Regions from separate parts of the Homo sapiens genome. Here regions 2 and 3 are each linked to region 1. The links come from fine-mapping of genetic effects on gene expression. A gene starts in region 1. Each other region holds a variant in brackets. All regions are shown on one strand. Distances are from middle to middle.

What was found.
Region 2: its variant is fine-mapped to the expression of B3GNT7 in NK cells (Schmiedel 2018, PIP 0.93).
Region 3: its variant is fine-mapped to the expression of B3GNT7 in whole blood (INTERVAL, PIP above 0.99).

Annotation. Positions count from the first base shown.
Region 1 is chr2:231,391,658-231,399,832 of GRCh38, forward strand. B3GNT7 (UDP-GlcNAc:betaGal beta-1,3-N-acetylglucosaminyltransferase 7) reads left to right here and starts at 4,053. Exons shown (of 2, transcript NM_145236.3): 1 at 4,053-4,157; 2 at 6,074-8,175. The coding sequence starts at 4,147. The coding sequence ends at 7,268. RefSeq lists enhancers at 508-1,091, 1,675-2,257, 2,258-2,839, 3,135-3,184, 5,453-6,652 and 4 more and a silencer at 3,735-4,204.
Region 2 is chr2:231,421,424-231,429,598 of GRCh38, forward strand. No RefSeq gene overlaps it. Among named protein-coding and RNA genes, the nearest start is that of B3GNT7, 30 kb to the left of the region's middle. The variant G/GGAGT (reference allele first, on the strand shown) is at 4,151.
Region 3 is chr2:231,370,622-231,378,796 of GRCh38, forward strand. It overlaps ARMC9 (armadillo repeat containing 9), which reads left to right. Exons shown (of 25, transcript NM_001352754.2): 25 at 892-6,227. The coding sequence ends at 914. Among named protein-coding and RNA genes, the nearest start is that of MIR4777, 12 kb to the left of the region's middle. RefSeq lists enhancers at 1-364, 365-1,012, 5,568-6,131. The variant CA/C (reference allele first, on the strand shown) is at 3,274.

The DNA.
Region 1 (8,175 bases):
GAGTTCCCAGACTCCAGACCACCCACACCTTGAAGACACGGTCATCTCCTCCTACCTCGCTGCTTGCTCCATCCTGGCCTTCTCCTCCTCCCACCCCTTCAAAGGAAGACCTGTCCCCCAGGGAAATGTGTTCTCCCTTTTCATTTTCCATCCCTACTTCCCTTCCTGCCCTAGATCCACACACTGCCTTGGCTTCACACAGGAGCCATTTCTGGGAGACATCAGTTTACCTGGGGGCACTCCCCCAGTGCTTGTCTGGGTAGTGAGCCCCTTGACTCAGCAGCCTTGAGGTCCCTCCTGCACTGCCCTGCAGGATGGGTCAGGTTCTCTGCAGAGGATATTGGTGGCCTTCAAGGACCAGAGGTAGTTGAGAAAGCGTAGGTCTCACCCCACCCTTCCCCATCGGGTGGCATATTATAATGAAATCAACTCTCAGACCCAACGGCTACCCTACTGGAAACATCTGTTAGCACGAAGCACAGAAACAGACACCCTGCCCCTGCCCACAAGCTCAGGGAAGTCTCACTCTGTCCTGTCACAACAGCTTTTGTCAGGGTGAATTCAAGGACATGCTCACCATGACTAGCTAACCTCCAGTCAGAGCACCACCTGCGGGGGCCCAGAACCACTCAGAGAAAGTTCTAGACCCGGGGCACTGCCCTGCTGGTGGCTGGACTTGCCCAGGCACAGGCAGAGGGGACTTGCGGTGCCTCTTCCCAGGCACACATCTTCAGCAACACTCTTTTTACTACAGAACAATGATTTCCGACCCTCCCGTGTTAATGTACAGACCCTCTGCTGTGACAGTAGACAACCACATTTGAAGTGCTGGCTGTGGCTGCCCCTGGAGTGTAGACTGCTGCTCAGGGTCTTTCAAAAACACCAACTAAGTTTAACTCACACGCTCACAAAATCACAGCAGCACTGAGGCGATTACAGCCAGCATAGCTGCCTGCCCGTGGCCCCTGCTGGGCTCCGCGCTCTCGCCCCACGATGGCCACCTCTCTGCAAGGCACGCAAGACTCCTCACCTTCTGCTTTGGGGGTCCCTCTGACCCAAGTTGGCCCCCACCTTGTCCAGTCAAGCCACTGACCCAGTGTGTTTTCTGGCCAGTCAGATACTCCCACCCTTGGGTCTCTGCAGCCCTCGCCTCTGGGCAAAGGCCTGTGCTGGGGTTACCAGCAGGGTCGGATTCCAACCTATTCTGGAAGGTTGAAGGGGTGGGATATAAAAGAAAGTGGAGGTGGAGGTAGGGATGGGCTGAGGGGCCAAAAGATGTACTGGGGAAGGGGGCATTTCTTGGGGTCCTCCAACGTCCTGGCTCACGAGCTTCCCCCTCCAAGGGAGCAACCTGAGGTGCACAGAGTGGCCTTGTGACAAGGACACAGAACCCACCTCCACCTTGGCTTGGGACTCCTGCAGCCTATGCAGCCAGCTCATCCGTCACCCACCCTCTTCTCCTGGTATCTGCCACTCTGGAACTTCCCTCTACCTCTGGGCTCTGCCTTCAGCCAGGGTTGGGGACAGCAGGTAGGCAGATCCCATCGCAGACAGGCCTGCCTTCCTCAGGGCCTCGCTTAAATCCACAGGAATCTGCTGGGGCTCTGCCCTCTGGCTGGGGCAGGTGGAACTGGCCAGATTGGCGGTGGGGGGACCACTGTGCTTGCCATAGGGACTGGCCCAGCTGCCCCACAGGGGAGCACATTGGAGTAACAGGGGAGGCTGACCCGAGCCTGGCCCGGCTCCACACTCCCCACCCCCACCCCACCATCAGGGACTCGCATTTAATTGTCATTCATTTCCCCTCTCTGAATTCAAACTAGGCACAGATCAAATGATTCCATGATGACAAACTGCCTGTCTCAACTGACCAGATTCCACTGGCAAACACTCCGCTGACCTTGGGCAGCTCCCTCTGCTCCCACCTCCTCTGGCCCTTGTGCTTCTGGGGCTTTGTGGAGTAGCTGGACATCAATGATAACACTAACAGTAGCCGGCCTGCCACCAAGTTCTTTACATAGGGGATGCCTATGTCTGTGCTTCATTGGCGTCATCTCACAAGGCCCTGAGCTGGCAGGAAATTGAGGTCTCAAGGGGAAAAGCCACCTGCCCCCAGTGACAACCAGGAAGTGCAAGACTCTGACCCAACGCCCATGCCTGCCATCCCCAAACATGGGCTCAAAACCCCCTTCCCAGGGACGGCTGTGTCCACCCCTCAGCAGGAGGAGGAGACCCCACAGCACCGGGTGAGAGGTCAGTGCTGAAGCCAGGGAGGCAGCTCTCAGCAGGGCACCTGTGTGGAGCCAGGGAAGCCAGGGCCACACTTGCAGGGTGAAGTGGGGAACTCGGAAGGCTGGGCAGTGGAGCAAAATGCTTGGTGCCCTGCGGGAACCGGTGGCCAAGGCTACACTGGGATGAAGGGAGCCGTGGAGCTGCAGAATCTGCGGGTGGCCCTCAGTGGCAGGCAGCCAGGCCAACAGGGGCTTTGGGCTGCAGGTCAGCCCCTCCCCTGCTCTGGAACTTTTGGAGGGCCATTACAAAGGACATCAGCCCCAAGATACTCCTCTGAAATTCTGCCTGAAAGGCCCTTCACATTCCCTAATTGGCACTTACAACATTCCAGAACATTCTATGGTACCTTAAGTTTCTCCTCCCCCTCCAAAGGGCCCTTGAACCTTAAGGATAGGGCAGAAGGGGCTCCTCACCCTGGCCTCGAGGGCTTAAGATCCAGCTGAGGACTCCTAGCCTCCCTGTGTGCTGGGCAGGAAAGTAGCTCCATGTCACTGCTGTCCCTGGGAAAGGAAAAAAGGTTGAGGAAGGGCTCAGAGCCAGCCTTCAGACCAGGCAGGAAGGGTTCAGAGCCAGCCTTCAGGCCATGCAGGCCTCCTGGATGTGCTTACTAACTCTGGGCTCGCTGTTCTCTGAGCTGGCTGGGAGTTCCCCTCTGCACCCCCGTTTCCTCCCCTGTAAGGTGGGAATAATAGCGTATGTCTCTAGGATTAAGTGAGCCAGTCATGCATGGGCCGAGAACCAGGTTTGGCATATTGTAGCTGCTCAGTGGACGTTAGCTGTTATGATTGGACCACAACGTGCTTCCGTTTCAATTCTGTGGGCCTTTTGGAGGTCCTGCTGGATGCTAAGCACCGAAACCTCAACCCGGAACAAGACCAGAACAACCTGAGCAACAACAGGACCAGCGATGGCTCTCCCTGCTGGAGGATTCTGGAAGTCACCTGGCTGGACCAAGCCCTCTCCGTGTTCTCTGTCAGCCCACTCCCCAGAGCCGCTAGGCCTGATGTGCACAAGCAGACTAATAAAGGCTTGAGGACAAAAAGGGTTTTGAGTGATAAGTGAAAAAAGAAAGGAGATAGGGCTGGGCCAACAGGCCTTCCCTTGGTGGTGGGGAGCCCTCAGAGGTGGGAGGAACCCCAGAGGTGAAGAGAGGGACATGGTGGGGGCACAAAAAAAGCTTCCAGAGCCACAGGCCTGGGCGAGTCCTGACATGGAGCCCAGTCTCATACGGCCTCTTTCCCTAGTGGCTGGCTTTGCTCCTGGCCCTAGGTAGCCCAACAGCTGGGCAAGGGGTCCGTCTGGTCAGGGGAAAGGTGCAGGGGCAGAAGGTAGCAGAGGGAGAAAAGGACACCCTGTCTGCCTCTGGCCCCAAAGACAAGTCCGAATGGGGCCAGAGGGAAATGGCTGGGCCTTGGGGTGCCCCAGGGTCTTGGAGGGGACCGGGTGTTCAGGTTTCGCACAAGTACAGGAGGGACCGGCGACCGCCCTCCCCCCGCCCCGGGAGGCTCCGCCAGGGACAGGCGTCCCCGGGATTGGAGGTGACCCCCGTGGGTTCCGAAGCCCCGCCTCGGCCATGCACTGTCTACTAGGCGCGCTTGGGGAGCCTAGGGGCCGTCTCGGAGAAATGGGGTGGTCCCCGCCAGGCGGCGGCGGGGCGGGCCCTGGGCGCCGAAGGGGTTAAGGCACCTGGGCCACCGCCCCTGCCGGCCCCTCCTCCCGCGGCCGGGAAGAGGAAAGTCGCGGCGGGGGCGCGGCCCGGTCTCCGTCCCCACCCGCCCGCCGTCCCGCCGGCCCGAGCCGTGGCGCCCAGAGCTGCGAGCCGCTCGCCCCTCCGCCGCTCCGGCCCGGGCCGCCATGTCGCTGTGGTGAGTGGGGCTGGGGGCCGTCGGGGGCCTGGGCGGGGGCGTGGGCCCGGGGCTCCCCCTCCTCCGTGGCCACAGACGGGCGCCGGGACTCCCGGGATAGGAGATGCCCCCGCGCGCGCCGCGCCGGCCTCAGTTTCCCGGGGGCGGATGGGCGGGCGGGCGCGGCGGCGGCGGCGGGAGATGTTCGCGGTACGCGGCCCCGGACCCGTGGGGGACGTCGAGGGGTCTCGGGGCGCCGCGCTCAGCTCCCCGGCCCCGCGGCCCTGGACACCGCTCCAGGACCCTGGCGGCTGGGACCCCAGGTCTTGCCGGCAGCTGGGTCCCCTCTCCCTTCCAGACCCCTGAGGGCCCCCTGCGTCCGGGCCACTCTCCTCCTCTCGGGGCTTCCTTCCGCGGGACCTCGGACCGCCGCCCGCCCGGCCCCTCTCCGCCCCTCCCGGGCTTTCCCTACGAATGGAGCGGACCCGGCAGGTGGAGCGCCCGCAGCCCAGGGCCTCGCCGCCTTCCCGGTGCACCCCCCGACCTCCCCCGTCCCGGCCTCGGTGGGCGGCTTCCCTGGAACCCCTAGGGCTGGCAGGGCCGGATCCGGAGCCCTCCGTTTCCTCCCCGGAGAGCTGGACCTTGGGTCACACCCCCCAGCCTGCACCTAAGGTGCCCCTGTCTTCCTCCAACCACATGCCCCAGCAACCTGGGGACCCTATGGGGAAAATGTCGCTCTATGGGGCTCAGCCTGCATTCACCCTGGGGCCTGGACCTGCAACCGGACCAGCCCTCAGGGCAACCCAGGCGTCTCCACGGGCTGCCTGTCTCTCCTGGCACCCTGCTCCTCCCCCTTGGAGGTCAGCGCCATCTCTCTGCTAGGCTGGCCCTGGAAGGCCACTCTGCTGTCCCCAGAGCTCTCAGCCCCCAGGTCTCCACTGGGGAGGGTGGGGCAGGTGTCCTGGCAGCCCCCGGAGGGTGAGATGAAGAGAGGAGGTCCTTCAGGACAGGGGCTCAGGCCCCAGGGCTTGGGACGACCAGCACTCCTGGCAGAGAGCTCTAATTTCTGCTTCCGAAATGGGTGTGGACCGGGGTTGGGGTGGGGGGGTCTCTGGGCAAGAAGGGTCCCTCAAGGGCTGGAGCTGCAAATGTGCCCCCTCCCAGGGAGTAGAGCTGTAGCCTCATGTCTTCTAATGGGGTGTTATGAGCTGGGGATGTTAAGGTAGGGGTGAGGGGCAGTGCCATGCTAGAGGTGCTCACTGCATCCTTGGGCCTCCATCAACCATGAGGGCTGCTCTTTGTTGGGTGAGACAGACTGGAGAAGGGGGAGGAGGGCCAGTCTTCCTCAGGTCCCAAGCTCGAGCCACTCTCCAATGTGCCCCACATGTGATGGAGCTCCCGGGCGGCACAGAGGATCAGAGGGTGCCCTCTCAATGACTCTGGCTCTGAGTCACCTAATGATACCGATACCTACTGCTGTGGGTAGGTACACCGCAGGGAAATGAAAGGCATTGGGGTTCCAGGCGTGGGGAACAGGGCAGAGGTTTCCACCTGAGGCCCTCCTGTTAAGGTGACAGCATTCCCCTAACTGTGCACCCGCTGCCTGGTACTTTATATAGCACTCCAATCCTGTGTTTTAGCCCCATTTGGGGGAAGAAGAAATCGTGGCTCAGAGTGGTTGTAAACCACTCATTCAGCTTGTAAGCGTCAGGGCCTGATTCCACAGTGCTCCTTGAGGAGAGGGCAGGGTGGGAGAAAGAAAGGGCAGGGTGGGAGAGGAAGCGGGACCCTACCCTGACAGCTTAGGGACTCCGGGACTGAGCCTGTGCCCAGGTCCACTTGCCCGTCTGGGACCACCCAGCCTCCCAAGGGGGGCGCCAGGAGAGCCCTGGGCTCATCTTTTCTCTCTCCTCTGTACTGTCCGCTCTCCCCCACAGGAAGAAAACCGTCTACCGGAGTCTGTGCCTGGCCCTGGCCCTGCTCGTGGCCGTGACGGTGTTCCAACGCAGTCTCACCCCTGGTCAGTTTCTGCAGGAGCCTCCGCCACCCACCCTGGAGCCACAGAAGGCCCAGAAGCCAAATGGACAGCTGGTGAACCCCAACAACTTCTGGAAGAACCCGAAAGATGTGGCTGCGCCCACGCCCATGGCCTCTCAGGGGCCCCAGGCCTGGGACGTGACCACCACTAACTGCTCAGCCAATATCAACTTGACCCACCAGCCCTGGTTCCAGGTCCTGGAGCCGCAGTTCCGGCAGTTTCTCTTCTACCGCCACTGCCGCTACTTCCCCATGCTGCTGAACCACCCGGAGAAGTGCAGGGGCGATGTCTACCTGCTGGTGGTTGTCAAGTCGGTCATCACGCAGCACGACCGCCGCGAGGCCATCCGCCAGACCTGGGGCCGCGAGCGGCAGTCCGCGGGTGGGGGCCGAGGCGCCGTGCGCACCCTCTTCCTGCTGGGCACGGCCTCCAAGCAGGAGGAGCGCACGCACTACCAGCAGCTGCTGGCCTACGAAGACCGCCTCTACGGCGACATCCTGCAGTGGGGCTTTCTCGACACCTTCTTCAACCTGACCCTCAAGGAGATCCACTTCCTCAAGTGGCTGGACATCTACTGCCCCCACGTCCCCTTCATTTTCAAAGGCGACGATGACGTCTTCGTCAACCCCACCAACCTGCTAGAATTTCTGGCTGACCGGCAGCCACAGGAAAACCTGTTCGTGGGCGATGTCCTGCAGCACGCTCGGCCCATTCGCAGGAAAGACAACAAATACTACATCCCGGGGGCCCTGTACGGCAAGGCCAGCTATCCGCCGTATGCAGGCGGCGGTGGCTTCCTCATGGCCGGCAGCCTGGCCCGGCGCCTGCACCATGCCTGCGACACCCTGGAGCTCTACCCGATCGACGACGTCTTTCTGGGCATGTGCCTGGAGGTGCTGGGCGTGCAGCCCACGGCCCACGAGGGCTTCAAGACTTTCGGCATCTCCCGGAACCGCAACAGCCGCATGAACAAGGAGCCGTGCTTTTTCCGCGCCATGCTCGTGGTGCACAAGCTGCTGCCCCCTGAGCTGCTCGCCATGTGGGGGCTGGTGCACAGCAATCTCACCTGCTCCCGCAAGCTCCAGGTGCTCTGACCCCAGCCGGGCTACTAGGACAGGCCAGGGCACTTGCTCCTGAGCCCCCATGGTATTGGGGCTGGAGCCACAGTGCCCAGGCCTAGCCTTTGGTCCCCAAGGGGAGGTGGAGGGTTGAGGCCTACGTGCCACTGGGTGTGGTGGGGTGCAGGTAGCCAGAAAGGGACCTCCCTGTGTGGATAATTCTAGGAAACTGAGGCCCAGGAACGGTTGGAGCTGCCCAGTCTGGAGGCCCTCTCTGAGGAGCGAGGCGCCAGGCCCTGGCAGCCCTCCTGACCTGGGTCCGTTGCTGGCCCCCTCAGATGTGGTGGGAGGTCCTGGTGACCTCTGGAGGAACGCTGTGCTCAGGTACCTGGGCTAGGCCTGGCCTGATGGGTCTGTGGCCGCCCCTCGTCTTCACAGGGAAGAGTCTTCTGTGAAATGCCTCAGTCTCCCCAGAGGCCGGGCGGCCCTGGCAGGAGAAACTCAACCCTGTGCGGGCTCACAGGCACCCCCCAGTCCACACCCTGGTCTCCTGGGAGAGAGGGCCCAGCCGGCTCTCCGCAGCCCCAGGCCTGCCTGGAGACGGGCCGCCTCTGCCACAGGGCCTCCACTCCTGGCTGTGTCCTGTAAGGTCTGGAAGGGCGACCGCTCTGACTACCTCAGCGCCCCTCAGAATCTCCCTGGGGCTGCAGCCCTACCCCACCCCGACACAGGGCAGAAGAGCAGCGCTCCTGGCCCCCCGAAGTCCCAGAGCTGCTGACCCCCACCCCAGGCAAGTCTCTCCCGCAGCCCCCACACCCCCAGGCCTGGCTCCCTGGCTGGAAAGCAGCCGGTTTGGCCCTGGAAGTGGACATTCCTCTATTACTGTGAAGTTTTATTTATGAAGAATTTGGAGGGAGAAGGCTCCAGGCTTCAGGAGGGGGTG
Region 2 (8,175 bases), 30 kb after region 1:
TGAAGCTGCTTGGTGTTCCGTCTGAACAAACCATGGTGTATTTAACCAGCCTCTGTGGATGGACGGTGCTAGATCAGTCCTTGTTAATGTAACATCACTCCCATCCCCTTCTACATCTCCCTGCATTTCCAGAGCCCCTTTCCAGTATGTCCTAGGCTGAATTCTGCCCATGAAGGAAGCAGAAGCCATTGGTCTCCAGCAGCTACTATGGTTAGGCAGCAAAACTCATGGCAGACTCCTTTCCTCGGCTTCTGGGCATCACCCTGCATGACCCCCACTGCAGTGCTATAAGCAGCTGAGATCCAGCCAGACACAGTGGCTCACACCTGTAATCCCAGCACTTTGGGAGGCCAAGGCTGGCGGATCACTTGAGGTCAGGAGTTCGAGACCAGCCTGAGATCCTTGGTGACAGCTTCCGGCAGCTCCAGGTGTCCCCCTGGGCATCATGTGCTTTGGCCCTGCCAGCACCGAGGATCACTGGTGATGACTTCCCTGCCATCTCCTAACTTCTAGAACTTTCCTGGCCTTTCCTCTCCCAGCCCTTCCAATGCTTCTCTTTCTGCTCAAAATACCTAGAGTGGCTTCTGTTTTCTTGATTGAACCCTGACTGCTACAAACAATACCCTCGCATATCCTGCACATGCCAGGAACACATGCCAGTCTATCTGTAGTATAAGTTACTAGAAGTCAAATTTTCAGGTCAGTTTCAAGGTTGCTGGTGTATTAGTTTGCTAGGGCTGCCATAACAGAGAACCACAGACTGGGTGGCTTAAACAACGGAAAATTTATTTCCTCACAGTCTGAGGCTGAAGTCTGAGATTAAGATGTTGGCAGAGTTAGTTTCACTCTATGGGTGTATGTGTCCAAATTTCCTCTTCTTATAAAGACATCTGTCATATTGGATTAGGGCCCCACCCTAACAATCTCATTTTAACTTAATTCCCTCTTTAAAGACCCTGTCTCCAAATACAGTCACATTCTGAGGTACTGGAGGTTAGGACTTCAGCGTGTGAATTTTGAGGGGATGCAACTCAGTCCATAACAGATAACTAGCTATTCCCAACTCACCCTCCCTGGCAATTGTCCCAAACAGCAGGTACATGAAATGTGTCAGCAAACCTGGTGATCATCACCAATCTAACAGGTAAGAAAATGCACATAGTGTTGTTTTAATTTGCATTTCTCCTACTCTGAGTGACATTAACATCTTTTCATGTGTTTGAATCATTCATATTTCCTTTCCTGAGAAAGATTTGTACAGGACAATTTTCTAGGTGACCTTAAACCAGCCCGGTTCTCCCATCTTTCTTGCTTGTAGTTCTGAAAATTAACTGTAGAATGTGCTAGAAATGCAACATCTTGAGATAAGGGGGAGCTGGCCAGAACTGCTCAGGCTCTGTTCCAGTTCCGCCTTAGAAACAGGGTGGCTCATGCCTGTAATCCCAGCACTTTGGGAGGCCAAGGCAGGCAGATCACCTGAGGTCAGGAGTTCAAGACTAGCCTGGCCAACATGGTGAAACCCCGTCTCTACCAAAAATACAAAAAATTAGCCAGGCATGGTGGCAGGCACCTGTAATCCCAGCTACTCGGGAGGCTGAGGCAGAAGAATTGCTTAAACCCGGGAGGTGGAGGTTGCGGTGAGCCAAGATCGCACCACTGTACTCCAGCCTGGGCAACAAGAGCGAGACTCTGTCTCAAAAAAAAAAAAAAGAAAAGAAACAGGGTGTCCTTCAACACTGTAGCTCAGCCACTCACAGAGCATAAAGCTCAGGGCAGGCTGCTTTTCAGGGTTCTTCAGCCATGGTGCAGGTGGGACGCATGAAGTCAAGATTCCATCAGCCCTGGGCAGCTGGCCTGAGCCTGGGGAACTGGCTCTGAATGAATCCTAGGCCTCTGTTGCCCCTTGCTGCCAATCTGTAATAAATCCTCATCGTGTAACTGGGTACATGTGAGTGTGTTCCGTCTCACCAGATGCCGACAAGTTGGTAAGCCGCGCACGGTGAGCCTGCTTCGCGGTTGGTTCATATCCTTTGCCTATTTTTCTATTGGCTTATTTGTCTTTGTCTTTGTCTTTTTTTCCATTGCGACACCTACTAAAATGGGATTGACTTTTACTTATTTGTTGAAGGGGTTCATTAAAGACATTTATCTGATATGCACTGAAAATATTTTTCCATTTGTCATCTATCTTTTGACTTTGTTCATAATTTTTCTGTGATACAGTGATATTTTAATGTAAATTTTCCATCTTTTCCTTAATGGCTTCTAGGTACTATGTCGTTATTCTTAGAAAGTCCTCTCCTACCCAAAAAGCACTGAAAATTTAAAAATTAAAAACAAGACTGGACGTGGTGGCTCACACCCGTAATCCCAGCAATTTGGGAGGCCGAGGCGGGTGGGTCACGAGGTCAGGAGTTTGAGACCAGCCTGGCCAGCATGATGAAACCCCGTCTCTACTAAAAATACAAAAATCAGCCGGGCCTGGTGGCGCATGCCTGTAATCCCAGCTACTAGGGAGGCTGAGGCAGGAGAATTGCTTGATCCTGGGGGGCGGAGGTTGCAGTGAGCCGAGATCGCGCCATTGCACTCCAGCTCTGGGCAACAGAGCAAGACTCTGTCTTGGAAAAAATAAATAAATAAAAATTAAATTTAAAAAGCTCTTTCCAACTTTAAGTTATAAAATAAATTTTCCATATTTTCTTCTAGTACTGTCATATTTCACTTTTTACATTAACATATTTGATCCACCTGAAATGTATTTTAATATAAGACATGAGGTATTGCTGGGCGTGGTGGCTCATGCCTGTAATCTCAGCACTTTTGGAGGCCAAGGCAGGATGATCACTTGATTCCAGGAGCACAAGATCAGCCTGAGCAACATAGTGACACCCCATTTCTACAAATAATAGTCTAAAAATATTAGCCAGGAGTGGTGGTGTGTGCCTGTGGTCCTAGCTACTCAGGAGACTGACAGGAGTATCACCTGAACCTGGGAGCAGTGAGCCATGATCACACCACTGCACTCCAGCCTGGGTGACAGAGTGAGACCCTGTCTCAAAAAAAAAAGATATTAATATAATTTTTCCTCTAGGCAGATGGTATTCCAGTTACGCCAACACCAGTGGAAGTGGCAGATTTATTACGTACTGAATTATCGTGTGGACTTGGGTCTAATTCCATGTTTCCTGGGCACATTTGAGACCTCTGCACTTCTCAAACCTCTGACTCTGACATCTCCCCTCTTTTCATCAGATGACCTTGCCTTTTAATTCAAAGAGCACGTGGAAGGACTCGTGGGAAGAGCACCTCCAGTTTAAAAACAAAAGACCCATCCCCTGCTTGCCTCCACCTGAGTCTCAGAGCCCACCCTTCCCAAGCGCTTAGGACCACTGTCTCTCTTCTGTGGTCAACATCCATTGCTCCACTAATCCTTCTCCATAGCCTTTTCTTTTCTTTTCTTTTCTTTTTTTTTTTTTTTTTTGAGACGGGGTCTCATTCTGTTGCCCAGGCTGGAGTGCAGTGGTGCCATCTCGGCTCACTGCAACCTTTGCCTCCCAGGTTCAAGCGATTCTCACACCTCAGCCTCCCAAGTAGCTGAGATTACAGGCACCTGCCAACACGCCCAGCTAATTTTTGTATTTTTAGTAGAGACAGGGTTTCACCATGCTGGCCTCGAACTCCTGACCTTATGTGACCCGCCCACCTCAGCCCCCCAAAGTGCTGGGATTGCAGGCCTGAGCCACCGCGCCTAGCTCCATGGCCTTTTAAATGGGCTCAAGACTTTTACGTGTTGAAAACAAACAAAAACAAGAAACTCCTTCAACCCCATGAACCTCTTCAGCTGTGTCCCTACTCTCATCCCACAGCCACATTCCCTGAGGGAATTGTAGTCTCTGCAGTCCCGTTCCCCAGTTACTCCTCAAGACCCTGCACCCCGCTCATCCAGAGTCAGAAATAGTGGAGAGTTCTTGGTCTTGCTTGGTGTCTGGTCTGTCCTCCCAGCTCTGAACGACCACATCCTCTGCCAACATCAAGCAGGACTTCAGCTGGACAGGATGTGGCTCATGACAGCCACTTTCACATGGTTCCCAGAAGGGGAGCCAAAGGGTAGGAGGTCTCAGAGGTGGCAGCCTTCAGTCTCCTGCGAGAG[G/GGAGT]GAGAGGAGCCGCTGGTCTTCTCTTCCGCAAGTGACCAGTCAGGAGTCCGAGTCCACCCACAGAGGTTGCAGAAAGCAACAGGGCTTGCTCCAAAAGCCTGAACATCACTGGGGTCTGGGGCTGTAAGGGGGTACCGGGGGGCTCATGAGAGGGCAGTGTAAGTGCCTTCCTGCCCATCTTCAAGCCAGGCCCTGGAGCCAGCCACCTGCCTCAGCAATTTCCCCATTGCCAGTTCCAGGCCAGGTGAGACTCGTAAAATCACTCACAAAGCAGAATGTGTAGTCAGAGCTGGGGAAGCACCAGCCTGAGGGGCAGGAGGCTAAAGTCAGGAGCTGTGTACTAAGCAATTCACACGCTCCCTCTCCCCAGAGAGATCTGGCCTTTGTGCCTTTGTCCTGGCTCCTGGAAGACCACACCTGATGGTTTACCGTTACCCTAATGAGGTGACTCATGATGGGCCCCTGAGGGCGAGAGCTGTCAGAGCAACCCCCGGGGCGAAGAAACAAGCTAGAGACCCAGTTCAACCTCACAGGCAATGATTCCATCACCCTGCCCACAGAGGGAAACTGCAACACAAATTCTGACATCAAAGCCCGGGGAAGCTTCCGTGGTTGGCGGTACTCTGCGAATTGTCATACATCACAGCAAGGAGGAGGTGATGCCACACCCGTTGGCGGTACTCTGCGAATTGTCACACATCACAGCAAGAAGGAGGTGATGCCACACCGGTGGCTGCCAGCTCCTCATCAGGACCCTCCCTGGACTCTACCCTGTGTCTCTTCCTTTGGCTGGTTCTAATTAGTATCCTTTCCCGTTCATAAACATGGGGGCAATAGTGCTGTGCTTAAGGAAGCACCAGCAATTGGAGGTGAACCCAGACAGGAAGAATCCAGCCCCAGCCTTGTCCCGCCGTCTGAGGATGACACCAGGAAGTCCTGACCTCCCAGGACCTGAAGCAGAAGGGCGCTTGGTATGGTGACATGGGCGGGACGGTCTGCCACTGGGTCGACCAGCCCACCTTTGTGATGAACCTAAGTAGATTAATTTCATTTTCTGGGAGGGTGTAGTGGGTGGAGGGCACAGATAGTCAGCCAAAGTATCATCCCAGACCCAAAGAATCAGGGGATCTGTTTGCTTTTTCAATAAAAAGAGATGGGGGTAAGTTTGTGCAGATACGAGGAGCACTTAAAATCACAGGTAGAATAATAGGAGAAGAACAGAATTGTCTGAGTTTAGTGCAAGGAGAGGGAGAGGCCTCAGAGCCACTGGGGCAAACCCCAGCCCTTGCAAACAACGCTTCCTCAACACCCGTAGGCAGCCATGGTTTTTTCGGATGGATCTAGCTTGGGGCAACCACAGCTTAAGGAAGAACTAGGGGTACCGTGTCTTCAGCTGGGGAGCAGAGCCCACAGGCCTGCTGAGCCCTCAGCCTCCAGTTCCCCGGTGGGGCCTTCCAGCTTCACTGCTTCCTCAGAGCCTGTGGGAACATTGCTACCTCCACCCTTCACCATGATTGGTGTGGGCCTTTGCATTATCCTCTGTTAACCTGCAGGTGGTCTTAACCTGGGGTCCACGAATGCCCACAGGGTCCACAGAGAGCATTCAGGGGACTCATATGCATGGATGGGAATAAATAGACATCTTTGTTTTCACCAACCCTTAACTTTTCTTCAAAATTTGTTAAGGTAGTGGCAAAAAACCACAATAGTATTAGCAGTTCTGTGACTTTGTCACTATATCAGTCAGATCGCAACCAGAGAAACACAACCAGCAGGAGGTACAGCCCATGCTCCTGATTCGTGGTGGTTATGTTCTATAAAATCACCACAAACACTGGATTAGTGAATGTTGAAGCTTTGCTCCTGGGAGAAATTAGGTTCCTCCTTAGGTACCTGTGAGGGTCTGGTCACAGTATTTTCTTTCTTTCTTTTTTTTTTTTTGGACCGAGTCTCACTCTATTGCCCAGGCTGGAGTGCAGTGGTGTGTGGTGCATTCTCAGCAAACTGCAACCTCCACTGCCTGGATTCAAGTGATTCTCGTGCCTCAGCCTCCCAAGTAGCTGTGATTACAGGTGTGTGCCACCACGCCTGGCTAATTTTTTTTATTTTTAGTAGAGATGGGGTTTCACCATGTTGACCAGGCTGGTCTCAAACTCCTGGCCTCAAGTGATCCGCTCACCTCGGCCTCCCAAAGTGCTGGAATTACAGGCTTGAGCCACCATGCCCGGCCTAGTCACAATATTTTCCTCAGTCGACCAACGCATAACCTTTTTTTATGTTTGTTTCTGTTTAAAGACACTGAAGTTAATATACAGTTGATTCATTAATTTTTTTTTTTTAGATGCAGTTTTACTCTTGTTGCCCAGGTTGGAGTACAATGACATGATCTTGGCTCACTGCAACCTCCGCCTCCCAGGTTCAAGCCATTCTCCTGCCTCAGCCTGCTGAATAGCTGGGATTACAGGCATGTGCCACCATGCCCAGCTAATTTTTTGTAGTTTTTAGTAGAGATGGGGTTTCACCATGTTGGCCAGGCTGGTCTAACTCCTGACCTCAGGTGATCCTCCTGCCTCGGCCTCCTAAAGTGCCAGAATTACAGACATGAGCCACCACGCCCAGCCTGATTCATTAATATTGGACTCACGGCACCATAACTCACACCTGAATGAAGCTTCTCCAACGCACAGATTTTCTCCCTATAGCACATCACATCCTTCTTGCTCTTAGGAGCACCAGAAAGCTCATCAGCAGTTCACTTGGGGGCCACATGAAGCAAGAAAACCAGCAACAAAAAGCACAAAATACAAAAAAAGTGGCACTGGCTGGGCGTGGTGGCTCACGCCTGTAATCCCTGCACTTTGGGAGGCTGAGGCAGGCAGATCACAAGGTTAGGAGTTCAAGACCAGCCTGGCCAACATGGTGAAACCCCATCTCTACTAAAAATACAAAAATTAGCCGAGTGTGGTGACACGCACCTGTAGTCTCAGCTACTCGGGAGGCTGAGGCAGGAGAATTGCTTGAACCTGGGAGGCAGAGGTTGCAGTGAGCCGAGATCGCGCCATTGCACTCTAGCTCTGGGCGACAGAGCGAGACTCTGTCTCAAAAAAAAAAAAAAAAGTGGCACTAAATAGACCACCAAAAGGACACATGTTTACAGTGTGAGAGCTGAAACAAGAAGGCAGGCTCAGCCGGGCATGGTGGCCCACGCCTGTAATCCCAGCACTTTGAGGCAGGTGGATCACGAGGTCAGGAGTTCCAGACCAGCCTGGCCAAGATGGTGAAACTCCGTCTCTACTAAAAATACAAAAATTAGCTGGGTGTGGTGGCGCATGCCTATAATCCCAGCTACTCGGGAGGCTGAGGCAGGAGAATCGCTTGAGCCAGGGAGGCAGAGGTTGCAGTGAGTCGAGATCGTGCCACTGCACTCCAGCCTGAGCGACAGAGTGAGACTCCATCTCAAAAAAAAAAAAAAAAAAGAATGACATGGACACATATGGAGTAGTTTTAAGGAGCGGAGAGTTTAGTAGGCAAGAAGAAAGGGAGAAGACAGAAAGAAGCTCCCCCATACAGAGACAGAAGGAGGGGGGCTCCAAAGTCCAAAGAGGGAACCCCAAGTGTGGTGGATACCAGCCAGGTATATGTAGAGGCTGGAGGAAGCAGTGTTTGATTTGCATAGGGCTCAGGGGATTGGTTTGACCAGGCATGTCATTCATGCAGCCCGTGAAAAAGCTGGCCCTCCCACCCTAGCCTTTTAATATGCAAACGCAGGGTGCCATGATGTTCTACACACATGGGGATATGTAGGGGTGGCCATGTTGCCAGGAACATGTGGGGCAAGGGCAAGAAGTTCGCAGGAATCGCCATGTTTGGGTGGACCCAGTTTCTAATGGCCTTCATTTGCATATCAAAGGTTGCCGGCCTGGCTCTAAGAGCTGCTTTAAAAACGAAAACTTCCCAGGGACCCCTTTTCCTCTCTTATCTGCCTAAAATAATTTCTTAACTCCTACAACACTATCATACCACAT
Region 3 (8,175 bases), 21 kb before region 1:
CCGCCAGAAGGGCCTGAAGATGGGATGGGCCCAAGGGCCCCCACTCTCTCCCTGGGGCCTCTCTCTCACCCTCTCACCTGAGGCTCACTGTAAGGACCACTTCTTTGTCTTTCTCTGTCCCCTTCCAGCCTCTGCCAATTGATAGCCCCTCCACCTCCACGCCCCAACTGAGCTGAACCTTTCTAGAGGGCTTTACCAAAACACAGGGAAAACAAAAGGACAGAACAAAAGGCCAGGCAGGACGAAAGGAGTCCCGCTTAGGATATGCGCATTTCTTTGGCCGCCCCCAGCCCGCCCCACCCTACTACCTTCCTGGCCAGGCCCTGGGCGCTCTGGTCAGCTGGGGACACGCTGGGTTGGAAGTGGGGGTAATGGCCATGGCTGGGGAGCCAGGTTGGGACCCCTCCCACTTCCCACTGGGAAACACACCCAAAACCCCAGCCCAGCCAGTCGCAGCCCAGGTCAGGCGCAGAGGAGGTGCAGCAAATCCAGGGGAGGCTCGGCCAGGAGGAAGGTGCCACTGGGGCAGGGATCCCCAGTCATAGCAACAGTGACACCAGCAGCTGGTGGCTGGCCTGGCCCCACATCTAGCAGCATAGCGTGGCCACGGTGTGGACAGCTCAGCCAGCCATGGGCGTTGTGTGTCCTGTGGGCTCAACAAACACGTGAGCTGTTGCCAGCAAAGCTGACTGAGTGACCCGCACCAAGCAGCCTGCTTCCTGTGAGGAAAGAGCCGGCCCGCCAGTCGAGCCCAGGCCACAGAACAGGTGACCTGGGAGAGGGAAGGTTCCCTCGCTTCTGAGCCGGCTGAAAGAGGGACTGAGTGGGACAGAGGGGATTCTGTGCGGAGACCACACAGCACTGGCATCTTGCTCTGGCTTTTCTCTCCAGGCAGCCAGTCTCACAGGAAGTAAGGATGTCCCCGGGTGTCCCCATCACGTTGCCGGAGGACCAGCCAGCTTCCCGCTCTCAGCTGGCAGCAGCTGCCGGTGATGGATGTGAAGGGACAGTTGTCCACAAGACTCTGGGAGCTGAGGGGAGGCCGGCTCTCCAGGCAGCACCAGAGCAAGGCCATCGCAGCCCCGCCAGCCGGGTCACTTTCTCCCAGGGCAGAGCCACCAAGGAGGGCTGGGGAGAGCCTGGCATTGCCCTCCTGGAGAGGGGAATTTCCTGCTCACCCTTCACACACAGAGGAGAGGGGTGGCTTTTGCCCGCAGGAGATCTTCTGGCCCCAGAAACAGCAGGTGCTGGATTTGCAGCCCTGGCCCTCCAGGCCCCAACAGGGCGACAGTGTAGGGCCAGCCTGGAGCAGGGCTTTTCCAAGGCTGCTGAAGCCAGCCCTCCTCACTTGGGCTGACTACCAGGACCCAGAAGGAACTCAGGGTGAAGCTCATTTTATTCTCAAGCCTGCGTCTCAGCAGCAAAGTTGGTGTTTTCTTCCTGTGTTAAAATCTGAGAAAGAAGGCCAGGTGCGGTGGCTCACGCCTGTAATTCCAGGACTTTGGAAGGCTGAGGCGGGCAGATCACGAGGTCAGGAGATCGAGACCATCCTGGCTAACGTGGTGAAACCCCGTCTCTACTAAAAAAATACAAAAAAATTAGCCGGGCGTGGTGGCGGGCGCTTGTAGTCCCAGCTACTCTGGAGGCTGAGGCAGGAGAATGGCGTGAACCCGGGAGGCGGAGCTTGCAGTGAGCCGAGATCGTGCCACTGCACTCTAGCCTGGGTGACAGAGCGAGACTCCGTCCCCAAAAAAAAAATTCTGAGAATATGGTGTGTTCCAGCCTCTTCAAAGCTCTGCTCTTCTGCACACGTTTTTTGAAGGCCTTAAAAAGGCCACCAGTGTGACCAGGGAGCACCCTCTGCCTCCCTCCCTGCACTGGGACCATAAACATAAACAGCTCTACCAGCAAAGTGACCCATCCCGCGGGGGAGGCCTGCGCACGCCCCTCACCAGGGCTGTCATCAGAATCCAGTCTTAGGACAGAGGAAGGATGTTTGCCTTCAGGACCAGCAAGTCACAGGTGTCCTGGATGTTACCCAAGCTCTAAAATCAAATAAAACCCATCAGTATTTAGTGGTGTGTGTGTGTGTGTGTGTGTGTGTGTGTGTGTGTGTGTGTGTGTGTGTGTGTGTATGAGTGTATGAAGGGAAATGGAAAGCAGAGAAAAGTCGCGTGCCCTCCCCCAGGCACCTGATCTGCCCACAGACCCTTCAATGGGGACATCTCTGGTCCCAATGGTCGTAAATAAAGGCTAAGCGCTGGATTTTTCCATGGCCCCCTGACTCCTCAGGAGCGCAGGCAGAGGAGGTAAACAGGAGGCCAGGTTACCCATGAGATGACCAGAAGCTCATCCAGGGCCGGGACCCTGGTTCATCTCGTGAATTCTTGGCAGCGGCTCCAGGCTGGGCACATTAGATGCTGTCATGTGACTGGCCTGGTGGCCACCTCTTGGTTCTCTGGAAATGTGTCCACTCTGTGCTCAGGGAAGAAGGCTGCCGTCCTGACCTGTCAGCCACCAGGCCCTCTCTGAACTCCTCACTTGACCCGGAGGCATTGGGAGCAAACACAAAGCTCGCCCCTGGTGTCAGTGGTGCAGACAGAGGAAAAGCAGAGGGTCCGCAAAATGCAACTCCTCCGTGGTGAGACTTTGAAAAGGTGTAGAGTGGTTGCAGACAAACAGCAAAGGAGTGGAATGGAAAAATCTCTCTTGCTCCCCACAAGAAGTCCACTCCCCTACGGATTCCTCAGATGCCACTGGCTGGCACAGCCTTTCCCGCCCTTGGTGTGGGAGCAGCAGAAGTCCAGCGGGGGTGGGAGAATCATCGGGGTCAGGTCAGTGTCTCCCTCGTCTGAAGTCAACCACTACTTTTCCCTCAAGCCTACCAAAGAGCTAAAGTCTGATCTGTAGATGTCTGATGGTTTGAGGAGAAGAAAAGATAGTCTTTTAGAGAAGTGGGGAGTATCCAACTTAGGGTCAAAATACACTGAGATTAGGCCGGGCACAGTGGCTCACACCTGTAATCCCAGTGCTTTGGGAGGCCGAGGCGGATGGATCACTTGAGGCCTCCAGGAGTTCGAGACCAGCCTGGCCAACATGGCGAAACCCCGTCTCTACTAAAATACAAAAAATTAGCTGGATGTGGTGGTGGGTGCCTGTAATCTCAGCTACTCAAGGAGGCTGAGGCACAAGAATAGCTTGAACCGGGAGATGGAAGATGCAGTGAGCCAAGATCACGCCCCTGCACTCCAGCCTGGGCGACAGAGACTCCGT[CA/C]AAAAAAAAAAAAAAATACATTGAGATTACCAGGTGGGGTATGTGTGGTTCTTCCAGGAAAGTGCTGAAAATATCACCCAGGCCTCTGCGCCACGCCCTGGGAGAGTACACTCCTGGGCTCACGCCTCTGCATTCCAAGGCTGACAGCTAGAAATATACTTTGTAAAATACCAACAACTTATTCACAAATATTCCAACTATCTACCAGCTCCAATGAGCTTGCTGAGGATGGGTATGACCCCAGTCTAAGGGGAAAGAATCTAAAACACAAGTAAACCTGTTTAAAGGCCAGATCTCCAGATGGAGATCCAAGCAGATGGCGCCTAAGGTTTGCCCTTGAAAACTACCAAGGAAGCCACAGAGAGGGATCTTTGGACCTTCTGGAAAATGGTAAGGCCCCAGGTAGATTATGGCTCCTCTGCCCTGGAGGCTGAGCCGCCCCTCTGGTTACCTCACATCTTCTGGTTTCTTCTGAGTGGGACTTGATCTCATTTCTGCATTCACAGCAAGGTGGAACTGTCTGGCAAGAGCTTAAATTAGGACCTGTGGTGGGGACTTTAATAGGCAGGTGGAGGTTTGAGATCCAGTGAGATGCCAGAGATTAGTCAATAGGTGAGGAAAGATTTGGCCCAAATCAAAAGAGCTAAAAAAAAAATAATAAAATAAAAATAAAAATAAAATAGTTGAACAAATAAGGTTCATGAAAAAAAAAGAAAAGAAAGAAAAGGTAAAGAAAAGAAATCCATGATAAAATATCAAACTTTTTAATAAAAACAAGTCTGGCCCTGTACTTGGATGACCCCACCTGGCTTGTCTAACCCTAATCCCAGCCCCAGTTTTAATAAAACTGTATTTACAAAATAGGCAGCTGGGACGTGGACCAGAGATACCAATTTGATTTTTTTTAAATATTACATTAAAATATTACATCATGTGTCTTCATTACTGAGTTTTGGGGTAGCCCTTTAAATTTTGTATGCAAGGTGAATACCTCACCCCTCTCTCCTGGCCTAGAATCTGGGGGATCCTCCTGTCCCTCCCACAGTGCCTGATAGCACAGCCTGGGGCTGGTGGTGTGCCTGTTTGCCTAGCTTTATCTCTCCAGATACTATTTGGGGTGTGCTGTTCTAAGAAGTGATTAGGTTAGCTTTTGCATATTAACAAACTACCTCTGAAACTTAGTGGCTTAAACCAACAAATGTATTAGCTTTATAATGATTTGGATCAGTGATGGGGGCTGGGCACGGACAGGCGATTCTTCTGCTGGGCTTGGCTGAACTCAACTATGTCTTATGGTCAGAGGGCAGTCAGGGGCTTCGCTCATGTCTGGTAGTTGGCTGTTGGCTGAGCCCTTGGTTCTCCTCTGGCTTAGGCTTGTTCACATGGTGGCCTCGGGGCTCCCATGGCAGTTAGAGAAATCAAGCCCAAGTCTCATATCACGTTCACTATTCTCCCATTGTCCAAAGCAGACCACATGGCCAAGGCCCAAGTCTGTGTGAAAGGATGTGGATACAGGGACCCCGAATGAACCAGAGGCAATACTGCTGCAAGCTACCACATAGATGCTGTTCAGAGCTTTGCAGGACCAAATCTTTTAGGGCTGTTTTTCCATTGTGGTATACCCTCTCCATTTAGATTCAATTGAACAAATATATTCTTTGGGGCTGCAGTGTGTCAGATGTGGAGACATGGTCCCACTGGCTTTCAAGTTGCCATCCATCTTCTAGGGAGAATTTCTGGCCTTTTCGGATGGCATGGTCCAGGCCGGAGCACCAGCCCCAGGTTGAAACATCAGGCAGGTTTCTAGGAAATGGTTGCAAAATTAGCAAAAAGTCAGGGCTACAGAGCCCTATCCAGAGTCGTCATCTTAAGGTGTCTACTAAAGCCTGGGGGTGGATGGGATCTCAGAAGGGGGACTAGAGAAATAGGAAACTGGGGACAGAACCCGGGGGTGAGAAAGAAGACAGCAGGTGTTGTGGGAAGTCAGGGACCCCAAACGGAGGGACTGGCTGAAGCCATGACAGAAGAACGTGGATTGTGATGATTTCATGGACATTTATTAGTTCCCCCAAATTAATACTTTTGTAATTTCTTATGCCTGTCTTTACTACAGTCTCTAAACATAAGTTGTGAATATTTCATGGACACTTATCACTTCCCCAGTCAATACCCTTGTGATTTCCTATGCCTGTCTTTACTTTAATCTCTTAATCCTGTCAGCTGAGGGGGATGTATGTTGCCTCAGGACCCTGTAATAATTGCATTAACTGCACAAATTGTACAGCATGTGTGTTTGCGCAATATGAAATCTGAGCACCTTGAAAAAAGAACAGGGTAACAGCAATTGTTCAGGGAATAAGAGAGATAACCTTAAACTCTGACCACTGGTGAGTCGGGCGGAACAGAGCCATATTTCTCTTCTTTCAAAAGCAAATGGGAGAAATATCGCTGAATTCTTTTTCTCAGCATGGAACATCCCCTGAGAAAGAGAATGCACACCTGGGGGTGGGTCTCTGAACTGGCCCCCCTCCCCCGGGGGCGTGGTCGTCTCTTATGGTCGAGGCTGCAGAGATGAAATAAACTCCAGTCTCCCATAGCGCTCCCAGGCTTATTAGGAGGAGGAAATTCCCGCCTAATAAATTTTGGTCAGACCGGTTGCTCTCAAACCCTGTCTCCTGATAAGATGTTATCAATGACAATGGTGCCCAAAACTTCATTAGCAATTTTAATTTTGCCTTGGTCCTGTGGTCCTGTGATCTCGCCCTGCCTCCACTTGCCTTGTGATATTCTATTACCCTGTTAAGTACTTGATGTCTGTCACCCACACCTATTCGCACACTCCCTCCCCTTTTGAAAATCCCTAATAAAAACTTGCTGGTTTTTGTGGCTTGTGGGGCATCACGGATCCTACCAACGTGTGATGTCTCCCCCGGACACCCAGCTTTACAATTTCTCTCTTTTGTACTCTGTCCCTTTATTTCTCAAGCCGGCCGACGCTTAGGAAAAATAGAAAAGAACCTATGTGATTACTGGGGCAGGTTCCCCGATAGGCAGGTGCAGGAGTTTCAAGGAAGGAGGAGGAGGAGGACTAGGGATGCAGGGAGGAGGACTTGGAATGCAGGGGGAGGACTAAGGATGCAAGCTCTGGAACCCAGGGAGGAAAGCAGGGGATGGAGGGCGGTCACCATGGTCGGGCTATAGAGGAGGTGGGGAAGAAGATAACAGGCTAAGGCCAGCTTGAGAGCAGTTTCCTTAGAGCACTGGCCAGAGGTCAGCCTGCACCAGTGCCCGTCAAGGCGGTGAGCTGGATGCCAAAGGCATTGAGGTCAGAGGGGAGACCCAGAGAAGACAGGGAAGTGGTGGCATGAGCTCTAAGAAGGGAGGCTGGAGCAAAGGCCTCAAAGTTGTGATCTTGAGGGGTGCTGGGGAGCAAGGAGTCCACCAGGCTCTCCTCTGGCCCCTGGGCAGGAGGCAGTGGTGTGTGGCCAGTTTGGGACAGCTCACAGAGCTGATTCCTAAGTTTGGGGGGAATTCTTTTTTTTTTTTTTTTTAGGACAGAGTCTCGCTCTGTTGCCCAGGCTGGAGTGCAATGGTGCGATCTCGGCTCACTGCAAGCTCCGCCTCCCGGGTTCAAGCAGTTCTCCTGCCTCAGGCTCCCAAGTAGCTGGGATTACAGGCACGTGCCACCATGCCTGGCTAATTTTTGGATTTTTAGGAGAGACGAGGTTTCACCATGTTCGTCAGGCTGGTCTCGAACTCCTGACCTCAGATAATCCGCCCACCTTGGCCTTCCAAAGTGCTGGGATTACAGGCATGAGCCACCGCGCCCGGCCCAGTTTGGGGGAATTCTATGAGCTGCTTTTAAACATAGCCATTACCAAAACTTAAGTTATATAAACTTACAGTAAAATAAATTCTATTAAGAACAAAGGGAATAAATACTCAAAACATCCTTTCCTAAGGATTTTCCTGCATCCACTGTCCTCAGTCCTGGAGGTTATTCACATCTGTTGCATCTGTATGGTGGAAATATGACAGAATTAACAAAGGCTGCTGGACATCTCTTCCCAGCTCTGTGTTCAGTGACATCATTTTGGTAGCTTGAAACTGGCCATGGTGGGGGTATTTACACCACAGAAATTGGCAAGCACCACAAACCAGAGCTTTAGCCCCCACCCCCAAGAGCCGGTTATTAAATGTTTACCAGCACTCCACTGGCAGAAGCCGTGCAAGACGGTGCAGCCTCAGAGGCAGGATGTTGGGTGGATCAGGAACTATGTCAGGGAGAGTTAGAGGAAGCAAGGCAGTGTGCATCCCTGAAATAGCAAAGCCAAGGGTGTGGCATGCACGATGGAGAGGTAGCGGCTGACTCTGCCCAAATCTCTTTCTACAGGTCCTCAGGGATCGCACTGGCCCAAAGCACTTGTGTCAGCTCACCTTCCAGCATCTGGCTCAGAGCCTCTCCCCATTTCTGTGATCACCGAGGGCTTCTTCCAGTTGTCCTGGGTGTCACTTGGACACCTTCCTGCTTGGCACAGTGTTGCTGCTCACGCTCTCGCTGTCCCTCTGGGCCTCTGGAAACACGCCTGCCCCAAGTGTGCACAGGTGTGGAGCTGCTCTTTGTCACAAGTCTTCAGTGATGAGTCACCAGTTCCCGGCGGGGGAAGAGTTCACTGGATACATGATAGTGTGGCCTGGGTCTCAAACAGCCTGGAGTAGGGATCACTGACCAGGCTGGAAGGGAGGGGCATACAGGGTGCCACCCTCTGACCAGCAAGTTTCCAAGTTATGCCAAGTCAGGCCTCAACTCAGGCAGCACCGTCTTCAAGGGAGAAGCCAGGCAGAGGGTCCCAGTGGCTTATAGGCCCTGAGGGGCAGGACCAGGGACCCTGGGTTTACTG